Linked DNA regions of Homo sapiens. The protein of the gene in region 1 interacts with the protein of each later gene in a biochemical or structural test. Each region holds a gene or a part of one and is shown on either strand. Other genes may lie near its edges. The genes, in order: MAP3K4 and MAP2K7.

Region 1 (15,074 bases):
TGAAATGGCTGATACATTCATCCCTAAGACCCAAGATCAACAATACTCAGACTAGAAGAACTGGTATTACAGCAAGGTGGAAAAATAAGTACAAACAATAAGATCCTGGGATGTTCTAAACAGCAATGGAATAAGAGAAGAAGAAGATAAATGAGAAAATATAAAAAAGATCTTGGATTGTATCTGGGTCCACAAATGGATATGGGGGAGGGTAAGGTTTCCTCTTATTTTTTCCCATCATGGTAGTCCTTACAGCCAGGATAAAACTGCAGCTGGTATTATTAGTTCAGTTACATGGATTTAAATAAGTTTCATTTGATAATCTGAGACTCTCTTATTTACAACACTGTTTCTATAGATAAGTATTTTCAAGATCCCAAACAACTGCCTATTCAAGTGGACTCTGGAAACTAATCCATTTGTTTCAATTAGAGACTGCCTATGTAACTAGAAATGTGTCCTGAGGAAATCAATTTACAGAAGGTACAGAGCTACAACTTCATATAATTTTGAACAAATCATTAAAGGCATTTATGGCATTCATATTATGAAAACAAACTGCAAACAGATTTTTTTTTAGTATTGCTAGTTCAGTTCTTTTAAAATATTTTGAAATATTAATAAAGTTTTAGAGAAAAATTAGTTTGGGCCGGGCGCGGTGGCTCACACCTATCATCCCAGCACTTTGGGAGGCCAAGGCGGGTGGATCATGTGAGGTCAGGAGTTTGAGACCAGCCTGACCAACATGGTGAAACACCATCTCTACTAAAAATACAAAAATTAGCCAGGCATAGTGGCGCATGCCTGTAATCCCAGCTACTCCGGAGGCTGAGGCAGGAGAATAGCCTGAACCCCCAAGGCAAAGGTCTCAGGGAGCTGAGATAGCGCCATTGCACTCCAGCCTGGGCAACAAGAGCGAAACTCTGTCTCAAAAAAAAATTATTTTGTAAAGCATGCTTACAAAGGGAAATTAAATGTAAGATCACATGTGCTTTGCAAACACTGGTTATAAGTAACGTAATCAAAAAATATATAAAGACATAGATAAGAAAAATCAAACATCACGTGTATTTCTTCTTTTCTACAAAATCCTTCACCTATATTCATTCCTATTATCACGAAACCACAAAAACTGCAAAATATGCATTATGTACAATCTGTGGTACCTTGTCAGTTCAGATATTTTAACAATTAAGAACAAAAACACTAGCCAGGCGCAGTGGCTCACGCCTGTAATCCCAGCACTTTGGGAGGCGGAGGCAGGTGGATCATTTGGGGTCAGGAGTTCAAGACTAGCCTGGCCAACATGGTGAAACCCCCGTCTCTATTAAAAACACAAAAAATTAGCCAGGCATGGTGGTGCACGCTTGTAATCCCAGCTACTCAAGAGGCTGAGACAGGAGAATTGCCTGAACCCGGGAGACAGAGGTTGCAGTGAGCCGAGATCTTCCCATTACACTCCAGCCTAGGAAACAGAATGAGACTTTGTCTCAAAAACAAACAAACAAACAAAAAAGTCCTCAAACCTAAAAGGTTTTACTGCCTAAAATGTATGCCCTTAAAATGTACAATTATTTGGCAGAGGTTAAAAGGCAGAAGATATCTTAAAAATAAAAATACAGTTGCACCCATATGGATTTACAGTTAGCTTCAAGGAAGAAAAAGTAATAAAACTTCTAAAAGTTTATGGTTGATTTGTAGAGCATTTTACCATTTGATAAGATGTGGATCTGTGTCCCCACCCTATGTTGAATAGTAATCCCCAATGTTGGGGGTGGGGCCTGGTGGGAGGTGACCGTTTAGTACCATCCCATTGGTGCTGTTCTCATGATGGTGAGTGAGCTGTCAAGAGATCTGGTTGTTTAAAAGAATGGAGCACCTTCACCCTGCCCGTGCTCCAGCCATGAGAAGTGCCTGCTCTGGCTTTGCCTTCCATCATGACTATAGCTCCCTGAGGCCTCCCCAGAAGCTGATGTTGCCTGCCATGCTTCCTATACAATCTGTGGGACCATAAGCCAATTAAACCTCTTTTCTTTATTAATTACCCAGTCTCAGGCATTTCTTTATAGCAGTGTGGGAATGAAAACACCACTTACCGCCTATCTTTTTCAGCCTCACAACAACCACCTTGTGAGGTAGGTAAGAAGGTAGTATTATACCCACTCTATAAATGCAAAGGCTTCGAGTCAGAAAGATTCCTATCCACAACGTTCTATGGTAAGAAAGGGTCACAGTGAGAAATGAAACCCAGTTAATGGACTTCAAAATTGTGACTCTTTTCCTGACATACCAAATAAAACGACTAAAACAAACCTGGGAGTGGGGGACTGTACACATATTCACACACATACACACACAAGCACGCACACACACACGCCTCCCTTTATAGAAATTATGTTCCTAAAGTGGGAATAAAAATAAAATCTTACTTTCCCACTAAGTTAATTAGAATTGTAGAGCCTTATCTTTTGTTAGTTTGGATTAATCCCCAATACTGAAGAAGTCCCACTTTCGCTCTCTGTTACTCTTTCATTATCTGATGAACACTTAGCATCTTATGAACCAAAATTTAAAACAACAGGGGCTTCTGTAGTTCATTTTTTGAAAAGCAAACAACCTACACAAAATTCTAATAAAGTCTTTCAGTTATATACCTTATAAACTTTGAATTCGTGTTTCTTTTCTTCTATAACAAAGATGACCTCTTCAGCGAAATCTCAATTGGTCAAACCAAAGAACTACAACTCAGATGAGAATTCAGAACTCTGGGGAAACTATTACTGTCTTTTTTCAACATGAGTTCTAATATAAGATGTAGGGCACGTGTTCTCAATCTTTTCTTGCTATAACATATCTAAGGGATACAATCCTCATTAGTAGCAATAGTTAATCACCACGAAGAGCCTGGAGAGGAAGGAAGACAATTTGGGGAGGGAGGGTGGGTGAAGCAGTTTACGGAAGCCCGACATGTCCAACTCACCCCCGCCCCACCGTGGCCTCTTCTCATGTGCTGCTCTCCTATAAGAACCACTGAATTAGAGGTGAGGTTATACAGTCGGCCCTCTGAAACCCTGGGATATGCATCCGCAGATCAAGAATGTTTGAAAAAACATTAAAAATAAGAATACAACAATAAAAAGTAATACAAGCTACTCAGGAGGCTAAGGCAGGAGGACTGTTTTAGCCCACGAGTTTGAGTCCAGCCTGGGCAACGTAGTGAGATCTTGTCTCTAAAACAGTAATAGTAATAATACAAACAAAAAAGATACAGTATAACAACTATTTACACAGCATTTACATTGTATTAGGTATTATAAGTAATCTATAGATGATTTAAAGCATACAGGAGGATGCACATAGGTTGTATGTAAATACTACACCATTTTATATGAGGGACTGGAGCATCCAAGGATTTGAGTGTCCATGGGGGTCCTGGAACAAATCCCCCTGGGATGAGATACCAAGGGATGTTGGTACTGCCAGGACTTTTTTCTTCACTCATGTTACTTCAAAACCAGTGGTCACAATACAAATTAAACATCAATCCTGTCTTACCAACATATGTCCTTAATGAAATTAAACCACTCCAGCCATTCATGTTTAAGATTTCTAATCAAAATAATATTCAAAGTAAATCTCTTAAAATATAGCTACAAAGCACTGGTTCATGTTGTAAACATCTTCCTGAATTTATGTGAATGCTTAACCCGTTCCTCCTAAGGGCTCATAATCCGGCTGTCAGAATAAAAAATTAAAATCTTGCAAACTCAAGTTCTCTTCAGGTGTTTTCCATAGTTTCCAAGTTGTTTATCGTTAATGAATTTAAAGCAAGCCAGGCTGTGTAAAAAAAAAATGAAGTTAAAAAAATAAAAATAACAAGTATATACAGTTGGCTCTCCATATCCGTGGGTTCCACATCCATGAATTCAACCAACTGCAGATCAGAAATATTTGGGAAGAAAAACTACATCTGTATTAAACATGTACAAACTTTTTTCTTGCCATTATTCCCCAAACTATACAGTATTAACAACCATTTACACAGCATTTATATTACATAAGGCATTACACATAATCTCGAGATTAAAGCATACGAGGTTGTGCATTGGTTATATGCAAATACTGCATCATTTTGTATGAGGGACTTGAGCATTTTCGGATTTTGGGATCCGTGGGAAGTCCCAAAACCAAACCACCTCTGATACCAAGGGGATTGTACATATGTATGTATACAGCTACTAAAATTCAGAATCACAGACTTAACACGGGTATAAGGTATTTCAAAGATTTGGGTTTCACTTTTAGCCAGACGAACATGCAAACTCACCAGAAAAGCAAAATCACTTGTACAGTACTATTTTGGACTCTCAAGAATGATATCCCACAAAATGCCCTTGTCTAGTATTACCACCCTTTACAATAAGGAATTTATAACACGTCAAGCTATCAAAAGCAAATCTATACTGTTTTCAAGTCACTTCCTCTAGTGGGCACATTCCTCTCACAAAAATCTACACATATCGAAACACATATCTGACAAAAATCAGGACTTCCCTTAAACTTTCATCACCTGCACCGAACACTTTAACCTTGCGAGATAGTGTTGGCTTTTTCCCCTTGATCATTCTGACATTTCTCTATAATTTACATCTCTTTAAAATACAGTGACCAAAACTTGACATGCTAATCAAAAGAGAGAAAACAACTTCAAAGGATAGAGAAAGAACTCTCTCCTTGACCTTGGGCGCCCTATTCATTTATAAACACCTGAGTGTGACGTGGACTTTTTTCCTGACTCACATGCAGCTTGTGGTCATCCATGACTATGGCTTTCTTCCTTCCATTTTTGTTTATACCCAGCCTGTCCTTTGCCATCCTGTATTTACGTGGTTGAACTTATTCCCTCCACATACCACCCTGCACTTAATTCACTAAATTTCATGCAGTTTTCATAGATCTATTTAATCATAGTACTTTACAGAAATGCTTAAATGTGCAATTTATAACTGCCATTTGTGTTCAAAAATATTAGAATATGAAAGTACATAACACCAACATTATAATTTGCAATAAATAAATGGAACTAAGGATATCATTGTATTAATACCTACTGGAAACCTACCTCCACTGGACGATCGTTCTTTACCAATGCTATACGTGCCCTTTGCAAGGAACCATCCATTAGCTTGTGAAGTCTTAAAATTAACTTTCTTAACCCCATCTGCTTCAGTGCTTTGTCTACAAATGGTCTATAAATAGAAGTCAGACAATGTCTACTAAAGCCTGCTTCTGTGCTCCAGTCTGGTGCTCCCCAGCCAAGAGAATCATCCTCAGATTCGAGCCTCTCAAGCTTCTTGGATATGCAGTCCCGCGACTGGATGTCGAAGCTGTTATCTATGGGCTGTCTGATTTCCGGTACCCTAGGATCAGAGATTTGTTCTTCTTCACTCTCATCCGTACTACTTTCCAACTCCTTTAATTCTCCTTCTGTGTCATCACCCTCATACTCCGGCTCATTACCTTTGGATGGTCGAGGGGAAGGGATTTCAAACACTGGCCAGCCAATGTCTGATAAATTCTTGATGCCCAAAACAGTGCCCATAATCCTTAATTTCTGATTTAAGTCTTTTGTGATGTTTAACCACAAACAGAGTGCCTGCACCCTGTCCTGGAAGTCTTTTGCAGCATATTTTTCATAGTCCTTCTGAAGAGCCTGCAATGATGGATAAAGTGCTTCTATGTACTCTAGCAGCTCCATTATCCGTTTTACCTGCTCAAATGAGACCCTCTGGCGTTGGAGATGCTCATGATGTGTTGAGTAACCTACAATCTTTGTTCCAGGAGTGGCTTTGCACTGCCCTTCTACTGAAGTACCATTAAAACCAGCTCTATCTCTAACAAAGGCGAAGCTCCCATAGTCGACTTTGAAAGTAAGGATTTCATTAATAATATCTGGGATGGCTTGACGGGCTGTATATAAAAAGAAGTCCTGGTCGTTAATTGTCCGTCCTGCATGCCAGGCTTGTAGCTCTAACCAGATCAGTTCGTTAGATCGGTTAAGCCAGAAACCAGACGTATTTTCTTGTCCTCTTTGCTCCCTGTCTTTTTTCTTTGAGACTGAGGTAAGCTTTAGCAAAAGTCGTAAAGTTTCAAAAAACTTTAAACGATCTGCTGGACAGTCAGTCCTAGAAGTCTGGCGTGCAGGTCTGGCTATAGGCATGGGCACAGATACTGGAAGCTTAGCATTGCTACAGCCAAGGCTGAGGTAAGGCTTATTGAGATCCACATCTGGAATTGATTTTTTTGGCAAAGATCCACCCACTGAGTCTAACATGAATGAGCACTGTACATTTTTTTTACGATCACGCTCTGTTGTTCTAAGAGCTGCTCGGATCTTTTTCTCCTGCTTATAGCTGTATTCTTCCACATTCTCCACTGTTTTTCCAGTGTCTTTATGTGGAGGCTGATTTGGTGCATTCATTTTTTCTATTAAAAAAAAAAATAAACAGAACATTATATAACTCTAAAATATGAAGCTACTCTCAATATTTTCAATAAAACTGGTATTCACACATATTTATATTTTCAGACTGCTAATGGAAGAAAAAAAAGCATACCATATCCTAAAAATTAAAGGAATCAAAAAATATATATGACATTTTCTATATTTTAAAAAAAATTATCCATTTTTCCAGTATTTGCTGTATTCTCTTATATTCACAACTAATTACCTAAACTAGCTGTTTATTTCTCTCTATGCTACAAAGCATAGTTATCAAATCATTTAACCAAATTTCCGTAAGTAATCACCTTCAATTTAAGGAGGAAGAAACAGCATGGGAGATCTGACGGACACCTGGATGAGAAAATATATTTAATTCCTGCATTTGTCATTAGCTAAATGTGTAAACTTAAGAGGAAATCACGTAAATTATCTGGATTACTTTTCTCATTGATAAAATTAGGCACATTGATGCAAGAATACTTAAGGCACCCTAAGATTATTCTCATAAAAAACTGAAAGACAGTTGACAGACAAAAACACTGACGTTAGTTTATTCTATTCCTTTATTTCTCCTTTGCCACAAACAAGTGGGCAATAACATTTTAAATTTAAAATTAGCAAGACTGAAGACATATAGACTAATTTGGTATAATTTGCTTAGTATGTTATACTGCCATGTAAAATCATTTACAATTAATGCGAAAAAAGCAAAAACCACCCACTTCCTTCAAACATCTAGAAGAGGTTCTATAATCTGATTCCAAGCTTTAAAATGAACACACATACATCCTGTATGGCACTTTTAACACTATTAATTGCTCTACGTTACTGAAATCCTTTCATTCTGTTGCTTCTGGGTTCTTACACTTCCTTAAGTTAGTCCCTTCTTTTCAAATACCTCCTTGGAGCTTTGCTCACTACATAAAATGTTAATGTTTCTCCAAGTGCTAATCTTAGATCTCTTCTCCCTGGGTGATCTCATTCATTTCCACATCATATATCGATAATGCCCAAACCTATAACGCCATCTCAATCTACCCTCTACACTCAAGGCATAGTTTATTTCATTGAATCTAGGACACACATTTTTTCATACATTAACATCTCTGAAATTAGAACGTTATATATAATCAATGATGATATAAGTAAGTTTTAGGGACATATTTGCCAATATTTTTCATTTACATTTTTCTTTTTTTCTGAGACAGGCTGGAGTGCAGCCTCAACTTCCTGGGCTCGAGTGATCCTCCCGCCTCAGCCTCCCAAGTAGCTAGAACCACAGGCACGCATCACCACACCCAGCTAATTTTTTTTTTTGGGTAGAGACAGGATCCCACTATGTTTCCTAAGCTGGTCCCAAATTCCTGGGCTCAAACAATCCTCCCACCTCTGTCTCCCAAAGTGCTGAGATTACAGGCATGAGCCACTATGCCTGGCCCATTTTTTTAAACATATATATATATATATATATATATATATGCATAAGTGAAATATATATCTACATATCAGAAAGTATAAAAGATCTCTTTAAATAAATAAAAATTCCAATTATAAGAACACACCATCAATTATAAGCTGTTTTTACCTTAGAATATATTATAATCTCTTAGTATATATTTCTTATATACTAAGAATTTTATTATATATATTAATATAATAATTATACTAAGAAATTATTATATAATTTTCTTAGTATATAATATCACCTAGTTTTAGGTGATTAGTTGGGAATATATAAGAGATTAGTTGTGAATGTAATATCTAAAGACATATTAGTATATCTTCAGATTTGATGGAATAGGGTATATTTACATGGGTTACAAACCAATATACCACAAACCAAGGCACCAATGAAAATTTGCTTAAAACCAATTTACTTCCTAACCGATTCAAATTAGTCTTAAAATAAGGATTTTTAAACAAATTTCCCAAAGAGCACTTATAGCTTGGTTTTTCTTATATTAAACTTGCCTTAAATTTACTTTATGATCCATCAAAAAAGGTTTTAAACCAATCTGTCCATAGAGATTTTTTGCTGTATTTTAGTATACAAACTACTATTATTATTATTTTTTAAATTTAAAATTTTTAAGATAGAATTTTTATCTTTAGTACTAATCTACTTCTAAATGTCTTTAAACTTTTCATATAGTCCATTTAAGAAAATTTCTTCACAGTTTTATTGTTTCTAGCTATAAATGCTTATCAACTCTTATTTATATAAAAAAATTGCTTAGACCAACTTTAATTCTCTTGCTCTGATGCGTTTAACTGTGTTTTTTATACCTTTATTAACAGAGCACATACATACTATTTGGTTAACCCATGGTATTTTGAAACCAAAAATGACCAGTGCTTCCACATTTAACTCCACTATATTTTTCAAGATAATTCATATTATACTTTATTACTGGGAAACACAAAATGACATATACATTGTATCACTGTGTAGGACTGGAGGTAAAGAAAATGAGTTCAGTTTCTAATACACTGAATTTGACGTGCCTATGGGACATACACGTGGAAATATCTATAGGTAACTAAAAAAACACACATGTTGGGCTTAGGAGAGAAATCCAGAGAAATGGATTTGGAAATTATTAGTATGTACAGATATTATTTAATATCGTGATAGTAGATAAGAACATCCAAGAAAAGTGTGCAGAAGAAAGGCAATGAAGACCTAGAATAGAATGTGTATTAACTATTATGTACACCCAAATAAATGATTTTGAGTCAAAGAAAACAAAAAATTGTGAAATAAAAAACAATCTTGTTGGCTCAGGCGTTGGGCTTTTTAAAATACTTTATAGAACTAATGTGGTGCATTATTGATAATGGCCACAGACTATCTGCATACAATTTATAATTGGAAAGTAATAGTTGAGAGTGAAAAAATATTACTTTTCTTATATAATTTATTCAAGTTCTTCTAATCTATGATTGAAAGGTCCTAAGTGAAAACTAAGGATTAAATGACTTTAATAGTCCCAGAAGACTGGCTACAAGCATTATTCCAAATCTGTGCTACACTTACCAGGGGCAAAACATGAAAATAATAACAGATGAAGCTTCTCACCCTAGACCTTTATTCCAACAATGAAAGCAATCTAAGAAAAAATGCCACAATCCCATTTTTCCACATAAACATAATCTCATTTCAGCAAGCCTGAAAAAGTAACTTTTATAGGTTAAATACAAATCTTGTTAAGTTTATCTCACAGCATACAAAACAGTCTATTACACAATTTTTTGAAATTTTGTGTTCAGATAAAGCAATGGTTTAATATTTGGACCTACATAGTAGGTTTAAGGAAAAGCAAATTGGGAAAGGAGCAAGATGGGACAGAGAAGCTTTTTGTTCCCCCCCACCCCAAAACAAAACCCAAGTTGGTTTTGGAAAAATATACACAAAATATAAATTCATACATCTTAGTTTAAATAATGACGCAATTCGAACTTAAAATAGACAAACTCGTGTCTAGCTACTGTGCAAAAAGGATATACCAATTACTCTACCTCAGCAGTAGCTACATTTTTAGAATAATATACTTGTGACAGAAGGAGAGGGTGATTTGGTTTGTATATTTGCCCCCTCCAAATCTCATGCTGAAATGTGACCCCCAGTGTTGGAAGTGGGGCCTGATGAGAGATGTCTGGGTCATGGGGGCAGATTCCTCATGGATGGCTTAGTGCCCTCCCCACGGGAACCAGCCAGTCCTCGCTCTATTAGTTCATGTGAGAGCTCTCTCTTGTTCCCTCTCTCTCCATGTGACATGCCTGCTTCCTCTTCACCTTCCACCATGAGTAAAAGCTTCTTGAGGCTTCACCAGAAGCTGAGTTGATATTGGTGCCACGCTTGTATAGCATACAGAACCATGAGCCAAATACACCTCTTTCTTTACACATTACCCAGTCTCAAGTATTCCTTTATAGCCAACGCAAAATGGACTGACACAGAGAGTAAATCCAAGAGTGCTTTCTGGCAACTGATGACCAGTTAGGCCTCTATAAAATCATAAGGGACTTATGACTTAAGGGAGATCTGAGAACAACACTAGGGTGTTGGGTGCGGGGGTAGTCTATAGACTTAGTCATTTCCCTGAGCATTTTTACATTTTGTCTTTACCCACTCTGACATGACTAAGGAACTTTTTAATAACAACCAAAAGCCTATTACTGATGGACAGGTGTGCTTGTTTTTTGGTTTCCTATTAATACTAAATTCCTTTGCAATTAACAAAAGTCAAATGGAAACAGAGCAGAATTCTGAAAAGGAAAATGAATAAAAAGTACAGGAGTTAGCTATATAGAATGTTTTATTTGGCAAGTTCTAATTACAGGACTACAAAAATAGTTCTTAATAACTTGATGAATGGGACACCTGATCTCCCAAGTGACTATAAATGAAATGGTGTGATTTTTGTAGCACAATTAAAGCAAACCTCTGGAACACTTTTTCCTTTGGCCAATCACCAATAATTCTGGTAAAATCAGAAGAACATAAAAATTTTTTTAAAAGAAAACTTTATAATGAAACTGAAAGGAACCAATGACAAGCAATATGGTTCATCTGACGGATATAAGACAAACAAATGAATTCCCACCATCTACAACTAAAAATGGCTCTTTAGAATATGTATTAATTGTATTTTTAATCAAACTCTTGCAATTTTTATGTTCTCCCATATACATATTGTCCAAATTTTAGAAACCAGCCTTATTTGAGCTCTCAAATGAGATGTAAACAGATGGATAATCTTTAAGTATGAGATGATCTTCAGAGTAATGATGAACTAGAATACCAGACAAGTCAGCAACCTGAAGGGACTTAGAGATCATCTAGCTCAAGCTTCTCAAATTTCAGTGTATGTTCGAAATCACTGCGTTCCTGCTAAAGTGCACGTATCTCTGACATGGCTACAATGGCTCCACATTTTGAGAAATTGCTTTATCCAGCTTCCATTTTCCAGGTAAGGGCTTCACAGACATTGTCATAATTTTCGTAACAACATGATGATGAAGATTATCACAGAACACAGATGGTTAGACACATGGTTAATGTCAGAACAGGGGTCCTAGCCCAAGTTGGTGCCACCACACCATCCTTGGACTTGTCAAAGGTGTTTGCAAGGCAGTACCAACTGACCAAGGAAAGGCTAAGACAGCGAGTACCACAAAAGATTACACAGGCTAACTAGTCTGTAAAGGCTTAAAGTAAAAGCAAGTACTTGATTTGGGGCCTCGAAGAATGGAAGCTTAAATAAGGGAAGTAAAGAAGGCAAGAGCATATCTGAAGCCAGCAAAGAAGAGACACAAGGGCAGCAAAGAAAAGAGTGTGGCTGAACACTGAGCCTGTATATGGAAGCCTGGAAACACAAACCAGGACCCTGAAAGTCAGGCTAAGTTTAGACTAAAGAGCTGAAATATGGATTTAAATCCACTCTGGTTGACACAAACATTTCACTAGCTATATAGATTGAATCTGATTTGTAACCATTTTACCAGCTCCATTTTACATCAGTATGATATTCTTTAAAAAGCAAACATTCTAATTTCACTACTGTTAGCAGATACACACATTTACACACACATATATATAGGCACACGCATGCATGCACACACACACACCTTGAGATATTTCCTAACAGGGATGTGTGTGTGTGTGTGTGTGTGTGTGTGTGTGTGCAAATTCTCATATAAATTGCAAAATATTTGCTCTACTTCTGTAACCCAGCTATGGCTGATGACCATCCCGCTATGGCAGTGCTAGAATAGAAATGCAAAATGAAGCTGACAATGATCGCCCAGCAATGCCCTGGAAAGGGTTTTGGCTTGGGTGTCTTTTAAATTCCTATTTCACCTACTTAAACTATGAGATAAACTGAATGTACTTCCTTCTGCTATATTAAAAAGAAAACAAACATTTAAGGAAAAAAATGGTTTGACTGTCTCTTAAACCAACCTTAAGAACAAACAGTTATATTTGACTAAATATTGTCCAAAACGTATCAAAATCTTAATTGCTATAAATTGGTAATGACTACCATTATCCAAAAGCATAATCTCAAATAACACCGCAGCTAGCTCCTGTGGTGTTAAACTTAACACTCACCACAGTATGAAATCAAGCCTGTTCACTGAGTTCACTCGAGTTTACCTGGTAGGTTACATCAACTGGGACGTCAGATAGCAGACTTTCAGGTAATGCAGAGCTAATCATCCTTACCCAACACTCAAACACAGTCTTTAGATAAAATGCCTTTTTTTAAACTATCATATAAATTAAGAAAGTTTTCCCAATAAGACAGGAATTTTCAGCTTTTGGTGAAGGCTGGGCCATGAGATGCAGCAGCCATTTTGTAGTACACAGCCTCTTCTCTCCACTGTTCAAACATACACTAACATCCTGCTGCTAAGAAGGGACTGTGTAGATATAATTCAAGTCCTTAGCCAGCTCATTTTTGTTTAATCAAAAGGGAGATTTTCTTGAGTGGGCCTGACTTAATCACATAAAAGCCCTTTAAAAGAAGGCCTGAAACTTGTGGTGGTGACACGCACCAGGAGGGTCAGCTACTCTGGAAGCTGAGGCGGGAGGATCACTTGAGTCCAGAGGTTCCGGGCCAGTCTGGGCAACATAGCGAGACCCCATCTCTAAAAAAAAAAAAAAGAAAAAAAAAAAAAGAAACAATAACTCAAGGCCTTTACCCTCCCTGAGAGCATCTGCCTGTCCATGGTTGGAGTCTGTCCACCTTCTGTCCGTCTGGTATCACAAGTAGCCCACACCTGAAGTGGAGATACCAGTTTCTGCTCGTCAACTCTCTATGTAACAGCCACACTGGTCTAAAAGGTCCAAGACAAGGCACTGGGCTTAAAGCCCTGCACAAGCTGTAGTGGGAGTGGCTGCACAGGGCAGCCCCACTTGAGGCCCAAGTGCACCTGGGGGCCATGTCCGAGGCATCAGGAAGATGATTTCCTGTGCTCCTGAAAGTCACCAGATCTAAAGCTGCTGCTGCAATGGCCGTGGTCCTCTCTGGAGCCTTAGCCGACAACAGGCTCCTGGCCCTACCCTTGCCCCCATACCAGCTGAGCCCCTAGAGGCAAGTCCTCCATGCGACAGCCCTGCAAATGGCCGTATCTCAGGGGTTCACTTCCTTGCTCCCTCACAGATGCCTGTGGGCTGAGGGTCCTGGGCCTCGGCAGGGTTAGGGGAAGGACCAGGGATGACTGGCAGCGTAGAGATGCCAGTAGCCTGCACTCCAGCCCCCAGGGGCTCCTGTTAAGAGATAGTTACCCACAGACAGGTGCTGGGAAGGCATCAGCGTGGTCAGCATTCATGGATTTGCCGATAGGTAGTCAGGTTGGGTCCTGAGAAAGTGAATCCTAGAGCTATATGTTCCTTGGGCAGGTGCTGGAGGTAGGGCTGGTCCTCCTGCTATTCCTTGGGCTGGAAGCCACCAGGCCCTCCTTCCAGGGCAGCAGTTCTAGCTCTGCTCCACCTTGGCCTTCTCCTACCCAAAGCCTTCTCCTACTCACACTCTGGACATGGCTGCTTCACCTTCTCCTCCAGGTGGCTCCCAGGCTTCTGATTAAGCCAGCCCGTGGAAGACAATCTCCCTTTCATTAACTCAACATCAACAGGTTAGGGAGGTTAACTGCACCTGCAGAACCCACTGGCCAGCAGCATGCAGAACAGTGTTTGATCAATGGGGAGAAAGTGGGTGGACCTCACAGGAGTCACTGCCTCCCTTCTATCCCTATTTGCACAAAGATAATATCCTCTTACTGAACAAACTTGTTGACATTTATGACCTTTTAAAAAGTCTTTTCTGTAAAACCAGCAAATGTGGAGTTGGGGGACTATCTCTGTTCTTGGCTAGTGTGGAAGAGACCTTGTAGCCTTTGCACTAATTTTGAATTTGCTATGCATCTGATGGCTTTATCCTTTGAGTGCAACTCATGTCAGGATGAGCAGTTTTGTTAAATTCATGGTAAATGTTATCTAGGTCAATGCTTCTTAACCTTATTTGGGTCACAGACTACATTTGCGAATCTGATGAAAACCATGGACTCCTTACAAAAATGCACACATGCACATAATAAAATCTGCATTCAGTTTCCAGGGACCCACAATCCTCGTGATTGCAATATAAATAGGGCTTTGATAACTTTCTTTGATTCCTCACGTTTTCTAAATAGTTGCATTCAATTAAATACTGTGATTCAAGTGAGACATTTCTGAAGCTGTATATATCTGTGTGTGTGTAGGTTGCACACACACCATGTAAATGTCTATATATAGTACTTGTATGTAGCCTCATATTTCCAGTAAATTTCATACTGGCCTTATGCATTCAACCACAATCCCCAACTATATTCTCCTTAGTAAAGATAAATATAAAATGAGAAATAGGCAAATTTAAACAGCTAAACTGGCAGATTTTTATATTACTAATACAGAAAATACAAAGAAACGAGGTATTCATACATTGTTGGTAGGAGTATCAAAATGAACTGTCCTTTTGCAGAATGACACGCACAATATCTACCAAATTAAAACACACATACC
Region 2 (15,074 bases), on another chromosome or scaffold:
CCTCAGCTATAACTCTACACTTGTGTGTGCTCCACCCACAAATCGTCACCAGAGGAGTTCCGACAAGCCGGTAACTCTCATCCCAAAGTGTTCCCTCGTTGGACCAGAAGCTGGAAGGGCACTTGGCAGAGTCTGCCTGGCCCTGGCCACCTCCCGGGTGTCCGCAAAATCAGAACTTCCTTCTCGCATCTAAGAGCAGAGGGAAGCCGCTCTTGGGGGGATCCCTGGGTTCCAGATGGGACATTTCCCCAGCACCCGTCGGACCACTTAAAGGAGTGGTTTAGGCTGCCGGGGGCCCAAGCACTGGCACCTAACCCCAGCGCCCCTCCTCAGATAGGAATTCTCCACGTCCAGGCGCTGGGCTCACGTTCCGGGTGCGAGAGAGATAAGGGGGGTGTCTTGAGGTTCTATGTGGGTCTGGCCAACAACTCTGGCCTTGACCTTGGCCCCGTCGCCGAGGGCAGGGGTCACACCGCTGGGTTCCCATGGCCGTCCCCTCCCCCCTGGCTTCGGCCAACTCTGAGCCTGCTGGGGCTGGCAAGAAGGGAAAGGGCTCTCGACGGAGCCTAATTACGGTGAGGAGGCGGCACCCCGCTGCCAGCAGGAGGCTAGGAGGTAATTAAGCACAAGAGGAATCCTAATAAAGCACCATCAGTGAGGAAGGCATTCCGAAGGGACGCCCAAGCCGACCGTGAAAAGCGAGGAGGCTGAGGCTGCACCGCCGTGGAGACCAGGGATCGACTGCCGCTTTGGGAACGAGGTTCCAGGAATGCGCATGCGCAAAAGCCACGCGGGCGAACACGGCTTCGCCTCGCTAAGCATGCGCGCCGTTTTCCCCGCCCACCGTCCTCAGAAGAATGGTGTTTCCTCGCAGCGCCTCTCTCAGGAGCGATCGGGAATTGGCGCATGCGCACTACGGTGGTGGTGGCGACGAAGGCGGGGGTTGCACGTTGCCTGCCTCGAGCTCTAGGTGGCGTCATCCTTCGGGCTGAGCCGAAGCACGCACGCGCGGAGGTTCGCACGCGGAGAAGGGCGGGTGCGCGCCGCGGGCATGCGCGGTGCGGGGCGAGACGGCGGCTCGACGGGGTCATCCGGGCGCAGGCGCAGTGCGGTGTTTGTCTGCCGGACTGACGGGCGGCCGGGCGGTGCGCGGCGGCGGTGGCGGCGGGGAAGATGGCGGCGTCCTCCCTGGAACAGAAGCTGTCCCGCCTGGAAGCAAAGCTGAAGCAGGAGAACCGGGAGGCCCGGCGGAGGATCGACCTCAACCTGGATATCAGCCCCCAGCGGCCCAGGCCCAGTAAGCACGGCGGCGTGGGGGAGGGGGCGGGCGGGCGGGGCGGGGCGCGCGCCGCGGGAGGCCCCGCCCCCACCACAAGGCCCCGCCCCCGCTTCCGGGGCGCTCGCTCTCCTCTCCGCCCCCCCCGCTGCGGGCTCGCGGGGCGAGGGTCACGGTGACCCGGGGGGCGTGGAGCCGGCGAGCTCCGGGGGGTTCGCACCCTCAGGGCTTGGGAGCCCAGTTCCCGGACCCAGGCGAGGCCCCCAGCTGATGACCCGCCCCCATCGCCGTGATCCTCTGGGTCGGGCTTCCCCGACTCCACGCGACAGTGACCACATCCAGGTCGCCCCGAAAACACAGACACGTCCCTGTTGACCTGATGCTACCACTCTCGTCATCTCAGGGACTGTCTGGCGCCCCCCTCCCCCGGCCTGGGGGCTTGTCAGCCCCGTGCAGCGACGATCTACGCACACGCGCACGCCTGGCTCGGGGACACCTGAGGTTACTTGACCACATAGAGCCCCTCCCCATCTCTTCTGACCCGAGGATTCTCCCTCTCGCTCTCCCTGTGACCGTGTCTGAGGTGGGGGGACGGGAGGGGGTCCCTTCTCCCCCTCTTGGCGACAGTGACCATGGCATTGGGCTCAGCAGACCCCCTCCCACATACACCAGGCCCCGCAAATCCCTGTGACCAGTTTCACTGCCACCATCTTGGTGAGCGTGTGGTGTCTGACCTCCAGAAATGCACATCGACCCCCAGCCAGCCCGGTGACTTTGTCACCTGTGTTCAAGTGATGGCTCCCCTTCCCTTCACACCCACACCCACCTGACCTGGGGACACCTGGGGCCAGTGTGACTCTAGGCCTGCTCCCGCCGCGCCCCAGCATACATCCACCTGCTTTCTGATCAGTCCCACCACCTCGGTACCTACCTCCCTGACACCTTGTCATCCTAGATCAGTACCTCTCGCTTCACACACACCTGGCCTGGGAACACTGACCATATCTAGTCTCCCGGCTTTTTCCCCAAGATCCTGGTCTCTAAATCCTCTGGGCTGGAGGAAATTAGATTTTCAAACCCTGTGAACACCACCCCTGACCCATGATCCTTTTTGTGTCTTTCTTGACCCAGTAAAATTCTCTCTTGTCTCCTCTGATGTGACCTTCGTAGTTTATTTAGTTCTCTCTATGGAGTCATTATGGCAGGCGAGAAAGGTACCCCCGTATCTGGGCACCCCACCCATTCCCTGGTCACCCAGCCTGACCTTCACAGCCTGACACCCTCCTGTCCCTCCCTCTCCTGACCTGAGTCAGCGTGGGTTCCTCCTTGGGGAGTCTCTTGGGGGTCCAGAGAAATCATGGAGGTGGGGATTCTGGTGCAGGACACTGCCTGAGACAAGAAGCCCAGCCAAGACACGGGTCCCTGCTAGCCCCTGGGGGCCGCCCTCCCTGGCCCCTGAGTGGATGAGACAGGGTTGAGTCCAGGATCCCGGGTGCCTTCAGGGGTGGCCGTTCCCATGCAGAGCTAGGAGGCCGGTGGCAGGCAGGCCCCCGAGGAGTCCCCTCCAGGCGTCTCTGTCTGTGTCAACTCCATCCCATCCTCCCCGCCCTCCCCATCTCTGTCGGTTCCTAGCCATCTCTGCAGTTCGGTGCCTCCCCCTCCTCCTCGTTTATGATTTGATTTCTTTTCTTTTGGACGAATCAGTCGTTTCTGTTGTGATTTATCGTGGTGTTGTTTTTTTCTTCCTTTTCCCCATCCAGTTATTGTGATCACTCTAAGCCCTGCTCCTGCCCCGTCCCAACGAGCAGGTACCAGCCTTTTTATCATCGCTGCTTGGACATCTGCACCATTGACCTAACCGCTGCCCCGGCCGCAGAATGGCGTCCCCCAGCCCCCATGCTCTGTGTGTGTCCCCATGTCCCTTCCCCTCACTCTCACTTTCTCTCTCACTCCACTCAAGCAGCGGTCAGCCCAGCCCAGCCTCCTCTGCGTCCTCCCTCCTCCTCCCCCTCCCTTACTCCCAGCTCCACTTTGGACTCCCTGGAGGAGGAGGTGGGCTCCCCCACTGAATGGGAGTCTGTGGCCTCCGGGGGTGGGGGGGGTGCACGCCTGTGTGTGTGTAACTGAGAGAACGAGAAAGTTGGGCCTGGTGGGTGGGTGGCCTGTGCCTATGGATCTCTCTCAACAACTAGGTGAACACATAGCACCCCCCGGGTTCCATACCAGCCCTGGGCGCCAGGGACACAGCAGTGAATAGAACAGATGGAGCCCCTCTCCTCTGTAGCGGGGGGCTGCAATAGGGGGGCCCACTGGACAAGGAGCACATTCCCACCAGAGAGAACATTCTAGCTGGGTGAGCGGCCCTGCAGGGGGCCAGCCTGGGGGAACCTCTGGAGACGGTGGGAATTGAACAAAGCCTCTGGGGAGGCCAGGCACGGTGGCTCACACCTGTGATCCCAACACTCGGGGAGGTTGAGGCTACAGGGAGCCATGATCACACCACTGCACCCCAGCCTGGGTGACAGCGAGATCCTGTCTCAAAAATTTAAAAACTGGGCCAGGCGCAGTGGCTCATGCCTGTAATTTCAGTACTTTGGGAGGCCAAGGAGGGTGGATCACTTGAGGTCAGGAGTTCGAGACCAGCCTGGCCAACATGGTGAAACCCTGTCTGCATTAAAAATACTAGAGATTAGGCCAGGCACAGTGACTCACACCTGTAATTCCAGCACTTTGGGAGACCGAGGCGGGTGGCTCACCTGAGGTCGGGAGTTCGAGACCACCCTGACCAACATAGAGAAACCCCGTCTCCACTAAAAATACAAAATTAGCCGGGCATGGTGGCACATACCTGTAATCCCAGCTACTCGGGAGGCTGTAATCCTAGCTACTCGGGAGGCTGAGGCAGGAGAACCGCTTGAACCCGGGAGGCGGAGATTGCAGTGAGCTGAGATCGCACCATTGCACTTCAGCCTGGGCAACAAGAGCAAAACTCCATCTCAAAAAAAAAAAAAACATAAAAGATTAGGTGGAGGTTGCAGTGAGCTGAGATCGCGCCACTGCATTCCAGCCTGGGCAACAGAGCAAGACTCCGTCTCAAAAAAAAAAAAAATTTAAAAAGCGTCTTGAAGGAGTTGGGGGGGGAGAGAAGACAGGGCCGCCAGGGCTCTGAGCGCAGCGCCAGCCTGTGTGGGGCATGCAGGCTGTGCCCCACGCCTGTGTTGGGAGAGAGAGTAGATGGGGTGCCTGGCCCTGTGAGTGGTTGTGAGTATGTGTGTCCGAGGGCAAGGGGGACTCTGTCCCGGCTGCATGGGTGTTAGGTCCACGGCATGCCCCGGGTGTGTGTTGTGCGTGCGTGCACTTGCACGGCATGTGCGTGCATGTTGACATGGCAGCCGGTGCACCTGTGGCTCCTGTCGGCAGACACGTGCCCTCCAGCCTCTCGCTCTCTCTCATCCGTTCTCTTTCTCATCCTCACCCTCTTGCTCTCACTCCACCCTCCTGAGCTGCCATGTGGCCATCACCACCTCTGTGGCCTCTGTTCTCAGGGCCTTTGTGTACCTCCTTCCCCCAGTGCCTACCTGAACCCTCCCTTCCATCCCCCCATGCTCCAGTCTGTGGTCCGGCAGCCTCCTCCCCAGGCTCCGGGGCCACCCTCGGAAGGCCTGGTGGGCTCTGTCAGGGAAGGGGCCCACAGGACTCCTCGAGGGCTGTGGTCGTCAACCGCTGAGTGCAGGGTGTGAGCGGGACTCGGATACTCTCTGAGGGCGGGAACTAGGCAGTGTCTCAAGAGATGCCAGGTGCACAGGGGTTGGGGGCTGGGTTGGGGGGAGCACAGGCCCTCGGGAGCCAGAAGGGGACTGGGGCTGTGGCTCAGGCCATGGACAGAGCAGAGGCGCAGGGACCTGAAGAAGCAGAGGGAGAAGCCTGGCCAACATAGCGAGACCCCATCTCTACTCAAAAGACAAAAATTAGCTGGGTGTGGTGGCGTGTACCTATAATCCCAGCTACTCAGGAGGCTGAGGCAGGAGAATCACTTGAACCTGGGAGGGGGATGTTGCAGTGAGTTGAGATCACGCCACTGCACTCCAGCCTGGGTGACAGAGCGAGAACCTATCTCAAAAAAAAAAAAAAACAGTGGGAGGTGACGTGGTGCTGCAGAGGCGGCAGTGGCCAGGACAGCGGGAGGGGCACGGGAGGTGAGGCCTCTAGGCCAGTCATGAACGCTGGGCCTGGCTGTGTCCCAAGGTCCCCAGAGCCCTTCCCCTGCTCCTGCCTGGTCCTCCAGGAGGGGAGCTAGGGGGCACAGCTCCTGCAGGGGCTGGCAGGACCAGATAGGGGCAATGCTGGGCCTCCTGCATTGGGACTGAGGCGTCTTCCTGCCCCTCCTACTGGCTGAGATCAGGGTCCTGGGCACACGGGAGGGACGGGGTTTAGCTGCCAGCATGGAGCGGGTTTGTCTGTTCATATTAGTCCCTGGGCACCAGTCACCAGGAGCCTGCAGAACTGTGGGGAGAAAAGGTGGACGAGGCAGGAGGAAAAGAGGGGAGAGGGGCTTGTTGGCTGAGGGCTTTGGAGAGCGGCAGGCCCCAGCTCCTGTGGGAGGGGCACCTTGGTAGGTGTGTGTAGCCGTTGTCAGGGCCTCTAGGATGTGACGTGTCAGGATTGGCTCCTCTGGAGGCCACGTTAGCATCCCGGCCTCTGTTCCTGCACCCTGTTGCCAGCCCAGCCAGGGAGACCCTAGCTCCTCCGGGAAGCTGCCCTCCTGTCCCAGGCCCCTCTCTGGCCTGTCTCTGCAGCGCCTCCTCTGGGCACCTGGGCCCTAGTCTTGGTTCCTGTCTGTCTGTCTGTCTCCTGCCCTCCCACCCCTAATGCCGCCTGCCCACCCCAGGGTGCCTGCTGCCTGCCCGCCGCCTGCCCACCCGCTGTAGCATGCCCGAGCTGCCCGCATGCAGGCTGCTGGATGAGCCAACCCCCGCCTGGCCCAGCATTGGCCCCACCTGGTCCCGCCAGCCCCTGCAGGAGCTGTGCCCCCGAGCTCTCCTCCCAGAGGATGCAGGCCCCCTGAGGTCCTGTCCTGCCCCCATGGGCCCCAGCTCTGCAGGCCAGGCCAGGAGGCCCTCATGTCAGCCCACTGGCCCGAGGGGGGCCCTCCCTGACCCCGGAACAGAAGATAGGGCAAGGCAGCCTGAAGCCTGGGTCTCGTGCCCGCTGCCTCCCCAGCGTGGCCCTGCTCGCTCTTGTCTGGGAGCCAACTTCAGTGCTACCAGCAGAGCCACAGCCTGGGCCAGCCCTGGCAGGCACTCCGCCCTGGCCTATCCATCCTGTGGGTGCTGTGGCCCTGGGCCTGCTTCCTGGGCAGAAGTGGGAGGAAGTGCACACACCTGTCAGGGAGGCCCCCTGGCCGAGGGACACCTCAGGTCCCCATCTCGTTTCTCCGTCAGCGTAGACTTGGGGCTCCCTCTCCCCTGCTAGCCTCCTCCATCTCTTTCCAGGTCAGGGGATGAGACAAGGGACCCTGAGAACAGTCTGGGGTGGGAGGGAGACCCCAGCTCCTCCAGCCCAGCAGGGCAGGGGGCTGTGCCAGCCTAGCTCGGGAAACCCAGGAGGGGAAGGTGAGGGTCCCGACCCCTCCCTGGAGTGCCAGATGTGGAGCTGACACCAGCTGGGCGCTGACCCCCCTCCCTGCCACTGGTTCTCACCCCCCTAGCCCTGCAGCTCCCGCTGGCCAACGATGGGGGCAGCCGCTCGCCATCCTCAGAGAGCTCCCCGCAGCACCCCACGCCCCCCGCCCGGCCCCGCCACATGCTGGGGCTCCCGTCAACCCTGTTCACACCCCGCAGCATGGAGAGGTGAGCCAGGGGCCCAGCAGGGTTGGGTGGGAAGCAGCATTGAGGGGCCACCGTGCCAGCCCTGGGAGGAGGGTGGTTAAACCGGTGGGAACCCCGGTATGGGGGACTGGGGTGGCCAACCTAAGGTCAGGACCCACCTCCACCGGCACCTGCTCCATGTCCCCAGCATTGAGATTGACCAGAAGCTGCAGGAGATCATGAAGCAGACGGGCTACCTGACCATCGGGGGCCAGGTACCACCTTCACTGTGGCGGGGAGAGGGAGGAGGCCCAGCCAGGCTGGACCCATCCTGGGAGCGCCAGTGGGGGGCAGGGGGCGGTGGCAGAGGCCCCAGGGACCCTCCAACCCTCCCTCTCCTCCCAGCGCTACCAGGCAGAAATCAACGACCTGGAGAACTTGGGCGAGATGGGCAGCGGCACCTGCGGCCAGGTGTGGAAGATGCGCTTCCGGAAGACCGGCCACGTCATTGCCGTTAAGGTGAGCCTTGGCGGCTACCCCGGCTGCGCCCCACACCCCAGGCCGGTGCTGAGGCTCCCTCCTGTCCCTGCCTGTGCAGCAAATGCGGCGCTCCGGGAACAAGGAGGAGAACAAGCGCATCCTCATGGACCTGGATGTGGTGCTGAAGAGCCACGACTGCCCCTACATCGTGCAGTGCTTTGGGACGTTCATCACCAACGTGAGTACCTGGCCGCGCCCTGCAGCGTCTCCTCCTCCCTCACCCCTGCCCCTTCCTAGGGAGCAGAGCCTCTGGGGGGTGGGCCGGAAGACACAGCTCCCCCGGGTGCCCCTCTCCCTGCAGACGGACGTCTTCATCGCCATGGAGCTCATGGGCACCTGCGCTGAGAAGCTCAAGAAGCGGATGCAGGGCCCCATCCCCGAGCGCATTCTGGGCAAGATGACAGTGGCGGTGAGTGACCAGGCGGGGCTTGCACTGGGCAGGATGACAGAGGCGGTGAGTGACCAGGCGGGGCGTGCACTGGGCAAGATGACAGTGGCGGTGAGTGGCCAGGTGGGGCGTGCACCGGGCAGGTGGCCTTGGGTCTGTGCCCCCTGCCACATGCACCCCCCTCTGCGTGCCTGCAGATTGTGAAGGCGCTGTACTACCTGAAGGAGAAGCACGGTGTCATCCACCGCGACGTCAAGCCCTCCAACATCCTGCTGGACGAGCGGGGCCAGATCAAGCTCTGCGACTTCGGCATCAGCGGCCGCCTGGTGGACTCCAAAGCCAAGACGCGGAGCGCCGGCTGTGCCGCCTACATGGCAGTGAGTGGGGGCCCCCCAGCGGGGGAGGGGGTGGGGGCTGGGAGGCCGGCCCCAGCCTTGGAGATACGTCTTCTCCTCCCCCCCCTGCAGCCCGAGCGCATTGACCCCCCAGACCCCACCAAGCCGGACTATGACATCCGGGCCGACGTATGGAGCCTGGGCATCTCGTTGGTGAGTTGGGGCCCTCCCCTGTTCTCCAGCCAGGAGTGAGGGCTTCTGGGGGACTCGGAGGGAGGAGAACATAAACCTGTCCAGCCCTGCCCGTCTCCCTCCCAGGTGGAGCTGGCAACAGGACAGTTTCCCTACAAGAACTGCAAGACGGACTTTGAGGTCCTCACCAAAGTCCTACAGGAAGAGCCCCCGCTTCTGCCCGGACACATGGGCTTCTCGGGGGACTTCCAGTCCTTCGTCAAAGACTGGTGAGAACCTCCCTCCACTTGGGAGGTCAGGGACAGCCCGCTGCTCTGGGCAGCTGGGGAGGCAATGGCAGGAGGGGAATGGAGGCCGCACCCTGGGATGGGCGGATGCGACTGTGGGCGGGCTCCTGGCTGGCGGCTGCCACAGGAGCTGGAGCTGGTGCCCAGGGAGCCATGAGCTGGGTTTGGACCTAGCCTGAGGGGACAGCCAGCCCTGTGGCATTTGGCGGGGTGGCTGTTGGAGATTGTGAGCACGCTTCTGCAACAAGCACAGCTACAAGTTCAGGAGGGCCATGTTCGATTCTCTCAGGGGAGCCCCACCCACCTTTCTGGGGGACCTCAGCCAGCTCTGGCCCCCCAAGCCAGGCCCTTGCCACCTGGCCCTAGGCCAGGAGGCTCCGGGACTCACAGTTGCTCCCCGCTGTCAGCCGGGGTCCTGAGGACATCCACAGCTCCTTCCCCCACACACATCTTGGGGACCCCTGGCCCCTTGGGGAGGGCCTGAGCACAGGGGTGGGGCCGGCATCCCCTCCTCCCTCGTTCTCACATCTGTCTTCCCTTCTCTTGCTCTAGCCTTACTAAAGATCACAGGAAGAGACCAAAGTATAATAAGCTACTTGTGAGTACCTGAGCCCTCCCAGTCCCCGTCCTGTCCCTGCGGAGGCGCGAGGCCAGGAGGGAAGACCGTCTCCTCCTAAGCCCCACCCCCTCGGGCCCACAGGAACACAGCTTCATCAAGCGCTACGAGACGCTGGAGGTGGACGTGGCGTCCTGGTTCAAGGATGTCATGGCGAAGACTGAGTCACCGCGGACTAGCGGCGTCCTGAGCCAGCCCCACCTGCCCTTCTTCAGGTAGCTGCTTGGCGGCGGCCAGCCCCACAGGGGGCCAGGGGCATGGCCACAGGCCCCCCTCCCCACTTGGCCACCCAGCTGCCTGCCAGGGGAGACCTGGGACCTGGACGGCCACCTAGGACTGAGGACAGAGAGTGGGGGGTGCCCACCCACCCCCCCCGCCCCGGGCCTACCAAGCCCCCGCCCTTCCCACCCCGGGGTCAGCCGGCCGTGTGCGTCCCCCGACAGACACTGTGAACGGAAGACAGCAGGCCGCGATCAGAGTCGCTGTTCATTCAGCCGCAGCCTCTGGGCCGGGGCGGCCCCCAGGGGCCAGGAGAGAGCCCTGGAGTCCCGCAGCCACCATGCACGCTCCCAGCGTGCTGTGTCCTTCGCCACTCCCACGCGCCCGTTCCTCTTCCGTCGCCCTCTGTCCCCTGCTCTACCTCTCTGTCCTTGTCTGGCTCTCCCGTCACCCTCCCTGCCTCTGTCTCTCTTCTGGCCTGAGCCTGGGCCCAGCCACCTCCTGACGGGTCCCCTGGGTCTGCATAGGTCTCCCATGGCGCAATGAGTCAGTGGCCCCCAGCCAGGCAGTGTGGGCATTGCCACTGCGGCTGGACGGGGCTGCGCGCTCGCGCTCTCTCTCTCTCTCTCTCTCTCTCTTTGATCTCAGGGGGTCCTTTTTGGAGTTTATTGTATTTTATTGTACTTGGTGGGGTGTTTGGGGTGGGGGCGGAGGAGAGCTTGTTCTCGTGGGGTTGTCGGTACCTTCAGAAACTTTTACCAAAGTCACGATTAGCTGCTTGTGGTGGGGCCCCAACCGCCCTCGGGCACTGGGGAGCTGGGCTGGGGCTGCTGCTCTGGGGTCTCCGGGGGCCACAGCTTGGGGTGAGTTGAAGACCTCAGGGGATGTGGAGGGGTCTGCGGGGCCCTGGCCGCACAGGATGGCCTTCAGGGAAGGTGGTCTTGGGGCATGGTGCAGAGCAGGTGACCGGAGGGAATCGGTGACGGAGCGGGGCCAAGGGAGGGGTCCGGAGGGAGTCAGGGATGGAGGGCAGAGGGAGTGGATGTGGGGGTTTGAGGACGTGTGACAAGCTCCAGCAGGGGTGGGGGCCGGGCTGAGGGTGGGGGTGCGAGGTGGTCACTCCCATCGTGCCCCTGGCCGTCCCTCCACTCACCCACACCTGGCCCAGTCCACGTTGAGGTCCAGGACTGGGAAGGACCGGGTGAGTGCACCGGGGACCCAGGCCAGGTGCCCCCCGGAGCCTGCTGGGGTGGCCAGAGCAGGAGGGGGTGTGTTTCCTTTTTGTGGGTGTTGCATGCAAATCAAGTGGACAAGAAAAAATAACAAAACAAAAAACAAGAAAAAAAAAACACAAAACCCCGTAAAATCACAAAGAAAATCCAACACCAAAGGCGCAGAAGCCGGCTGGCCGTGGTGGGGGCAGCGTAGGCGTAGCATCCCTCTCCTCTCACTTAGCCTGTTGACTCTTGTTATTATCATGATATTCACAAAACGCCGCATGTTTAAAAAGTCATAGATGTCATCTTCTCTCTGCCCCCAGGGAGGAAAGCCACCTTCTCTTGCCCCTTGGCCCCTTTGTCAGGGGCCAGGGGTCTGCCGGGTGGGGGTGCCAACAGGCCTGGCCCTTTCCTCCCCTGCATCCAGCCATGGGGGCCTCTGCGATTGCCGGAAGGTTGCATGGCTGGTCCCAGGGCCAGCACAGGCCCGAGGCCGGGCTGCCTGGTTTTATTTTTATTTAACTTTATTTTCTGTTTTATGAGTGTGTGTCCGCCCACCCCCACCCCCTTCAGTGTTAAGTGGGGAGCCCTGGGGGAGTCTCTCCTGCCTCCCAGCCTCTCCCAAGACCTCCCCCCTCGTCACCAGCCATCCCTCTGGACCAGGCAGAGGGCGGACCGGGTGGGCAGGGGCCTGAGGGTGGCTCGGGCCAGCCCACCAGCCAATGGACCCCTCCTCAGGCCGCCAGTGTCGCCCTGCCCCTTTTTAAAACAAAATGCCCTCGTTTGTAAACCCTTAGACGCTTGAGAATAAACCCCTTCCTTTTCTTCCACCGAGTCTGTGGTGTGTCATGGGCCTGGCAGGGCGAGGTGGGAAGGGGGTGGTTGCGGGGGGAGGTTTCTGCATTGAGGGGAGACTGAGGCAGGTTTGGGAGCTAGACGGGAGGTGTTTGTAGTGACTTGCCGATGGGTATCAAGCAGCTGGTGTAAGGGACCCCCTGCCCCCAGTGGCCACAGGTCGGGCAGCAGAGGATCCCTTAATCCCCTCAGGCCTTGGGCATTGGCTCTGGTGTCAGCCCCTCAGTCTGCCACCCCCGCTCCCTGCCTCCCTCCTTGCCAAGGACAGGGCCGCCTGCCCACGTGCGGGACCTGGGTGCAGCCCAGCTGGTGTCTGCTCTGGCCCCAAACACTCCGACCTCAGCTGGTCCAGCATGCTGGGCACCGTGCTGCTGCTGGCCCTGCTCCCAGGGATCACCACCTTACCCAGCGGGCCACCTGGTATGTATGGGCAGGGAGGTGACGGGTCTGTCATGCTTCTATCCCTGTTTCACCCTCTTTATTTTTTTTGAGATGGAGTCTTGCTCTGCCACGCAGGCTGGAGTGCAGTGGCGCAATCTCCACTCACCGCAACCTCCGCCTCCCCGGTTCAAGTGATTCTCCTGCCTCAGCCTCCTGAGTAGCTGGGACTACAGGCACGCACCACCACGCCTGGCTAATTGTTGTATTTTTAGTAGAGACAGCGTTTCCCCATGTTGGCCAGGCTGGTCTCGAACTCCTGACCTCAGGCGATCCGCCCGCCTCGAACTTTTCAAAGTGCTGGGATTACAGGTGTGAGCCACCGCGCCCCACCGATGTCACTCTCTTTCAACTAGACCTTTGGTGGTGGTCCTCATGGGGGTGGGGACAGGGCAGGGGAGTGGGGTGGGGTCTCTGTCCCCCATCCCAAGGGTGGCTCACATCCCCACTTCGGCAAAGCTCCCTGCAGCCACGGAGAGGGCCAGAGTTGTGGGAGGGGGCCAGTCTACCCAGGTGCTCTTCAGAAGTGGGTGTGGTGTGCGGATGGACAAGGGGGCTCATGCCTGTAATCCCAGCACTTAAGAGAGGCTGAGGTGAGAGGATCGCTTGAAGCCAGGAGTTCCAGACCAGCCTGGGCAACATAGACCCCGTATGGCCGTGGTAGCGAGTGGCTGTGGTCATAGCTACTCGAGAGGCTGAAGCAGGAGGATGGCTGGAGCCCAGGAGGTGGAGGCTGCAGTGAGCTGTATTCGCACCACTGCACTCCAGCCTGGGCGACAGAGGGAGACCCTGTCTCAGAAAACAAGAAAAATGGATGTGCAGGCAATCTTTCGTATTTGGAGATTAGCCGTTTTACCAGGACCCCGCTCAGCACCTGAAGGCAGACATCAGCGTGTGTTTAGGGGCACGAAGAGGGGAGGGGTCCCATGGCTGCCTCAGCCTGGACAAGTGGAAGCGTCTCAGATCTTGGTGGCCTGGCTGGGCTTTGGCTGTGCCCAGGAGAGCCTCTTGGGAGGGTATCCTCTTCACTTCCCTTCCTCGTTGGTGACAGCACCTATCTCCCCTTAGAAAGGGGAGCCGCCTGTCCTGCTGCGTCCCCAAGAGCAGCCCTGGGGAAGGTGGGGGAGCTCTGACTTCACCCAGCCGGACCCCACCATCGGGTGCTCCTCACCGCTTCTCTTCCGCCCCAGGGAGGGCTTCGCCAGCTTCGGAGGCTTCTCTAGGGGCGCATGGCTCTGCAACCGGCTCAGTTGCTGGGCTGTGCGAGTCCCAGGGGTCGCCAGGGGGCACATCACCGTCAGGGGGGAAAGTGGCGCGGAGCCCATCATGGGTGAATCGGCCGCCGCAACCGCATCCCTTTTCCAAAGGCGGCGGCGGGGGCGAGGTGGTCGGGTCACTTTTCCCGGAGGCCTAAAGGGCAGCGCGCGTTTTCTCTCCTTTGGGCCGCCCTTCCCCGCCCCGCCAGCTCCCCCGTTCCCCGCGGCGCCCGGCCCCTGGCTGCGCAGACCCCTCTTCAGCCTGAAGCTGTCCGACACAGAGGACGTCTTTCCTCGCCGCGCGGGGCCGCTCGAGGTCCCGGCCGACAGCCGCGTGTTCGTGCAGGTGGGGACCCCGGGGACACCAGGGGCGGATGGGGGCCGGTGGGGACGGGCGATCCCTGATGGCGCCTCCGTCCCCCAGGCGGCCTTGGCCCGTCCCTCCCCGCGCTGGGGCCTGGCCCTGCACCGCTGCTCAGTGACGCCGTCCTCACGCCCGGCCCCGGGGCCCGCCCTGGCTCTGCTGCGTGAGGGCTGCCCCGCCGACACCTCTGTCGCCTTCCCGCCACCGCCGCCGCCGAGCCCGGGTGCCGCCCGCCCCGCGCGTTTCAGCTTCCGCCTGCGCCCGGTCTTCAACGCCTCGGTGCAGTTCCTGCACTGCCAGCTGAGCCGCTGCCGCCGCCTCCGGGGAGTCCGCCGGGCGCCTGCGCCTCTGACGCCGCCGCCGCCGCCGCCGCCATCGCGGGTGCGCGGGCGCAGAGCCTGGAATCCGGGCGCTGGGGCCCTTCGGGGGCTGGGCACGGGCGACTCTGGCAGTGGAAAGAGGATACTCTCGGGGTCTGAGGATCTGGGGGTTGGGGGAGGTGGGGCGCAAGGGTCCATCTCTGCCGACAGAGTTTCTCCGGGGACAGTGTGGACACTGGGTTCCCCCATGGACAGCTCTGGAATCCTTCAGGGCTGGGGGTTGGATGCAGAAGGCCACTAAGGGGACACATTTCTGGGAACCTGGTGCTGGGCCTCACATGCTAGGTGCTGGGAGACGCGGACCATGCGATCTTGTGGGGCTGGGATTTGGGGTCCTTAGGGGCTGGGCGGCTAGCCACTTGTATGCGTAGGGGCTGGGCTCAGGGCACCCTAAGGGGCCGGATTTCCAGGGGTCCCATCTTGGCTGTGGTGGAGAGCTGGACTCAGGTCTCTCTTGGGGGCCCTGGGGACCAGAGCCACGATCCCGGTGCCCTGATGTCCCCGTCTCTTCCCCACCTTCCTCTCCCCCAGTGTCTGCCTCAGGACGAGGCGTGCGCCGACACTGGCAGTGGCAGCGCCGAGGGCCTGGCTGCTGACGGCCCCCACCTGCACACGCTGACGCAGCCTATCGTGGTCACCGTGCCGCGGCCGCCCCCCAGTGAGCACGCAGTCCTCCTCCGCATGGGGCCGTGGGGCGGCAGAGCGGGTGGGAAGGACGCCTGGGAGCTGGACCCAGTCTCAGCGTGGCACTTCCCACAGGGCCGCCCAAGAGTGTCCCCGGCCGTGCAGTGCGCCCTGAGCCTCCCGCGCCGGCCCCCGCGGCCCTGGAACCCGCGCCGGTGGTGGCGCTGGTGTTGGCAGCCTTCGTGCTGGGCGCCGCGCTGGCCGCCGGGCTGGGTCTCGT

Evidence for each region.
Region 2: the proteins of MAP3K4 (region 1) and MAP2K7 form a complex in vitro, tested with the Homo sapiens proteins (one study listed by BioGRID).

Annotation. Positions count from the first base shown.
Region 1 is NC_000006.12:161,040,028-161,055,101, reverse strand, and holds part of MAP3K4 (mitogen-activated protein kinase kinase kinase 4), read right to left. Parts: intron 6,487-15,074; coding exon 5,123-6,486; intron 1-5,122. UniProt on the Homo sapiens protein: Component of a protein kinase signal transduction cascade. Activates the CSBP2, P38 and JNK MAPK pathways, but not the ERK pathway. Specifically phosphorylates and activates MAP2K4 and MAP2K6.
Region 2 is NC_000019.10:7,902,772-7,917,845, forward strand, and holds MAP2K7 (dual specificity mitogen-activated protein kinase kinase 7), read left to right. Parts: upstream 1-1,105; 5' UTR 1,106-1,173; coding exon 1,174-1,297; intron 1,298-3,036; coding exon of another isoform or gene 3,037-3,084; intron 3,085-6,983; coding exon 6,984-7,125; intron 7,126-7,291; coding exon 7,292-7,358; intron 7,359-7,488; coding exon 7,489-7,602; intron 7,603-7,681; coding exon 7,682-7,801; intron 7,802-7,924; coding exon 7,925-8,032; intron 8,033-8,208; coding exon 8,209-8,388; intron 8,389-8,478; coding exon 8,479-8,559; intron 8,560-8,643; coding exon of another isoform or gene 8,644-8,664; coding exon 8,665-8,807; intron 8,808-9,377; coding exon 9,378-9,423; intron 9,424-9,525; coding exon 9,526-9,660; 3' UTR 9,661-11,707; downstream 11,708-15,074. Other genes in the region: TGFBR3L (transforming growth factor-beta receptor type 3-like protein), read left to right, coding at 13,497-14,171, 14,702-15,074. UniProt on the Homo sapiens protein: Dual specificity protein kinase which acts as an essential component of the MAP kinase signal transduction pathway. Essential component of the stress-activated protein kinase/c-Jun N-terminal kinase (SAP/JNK) signaling pathway.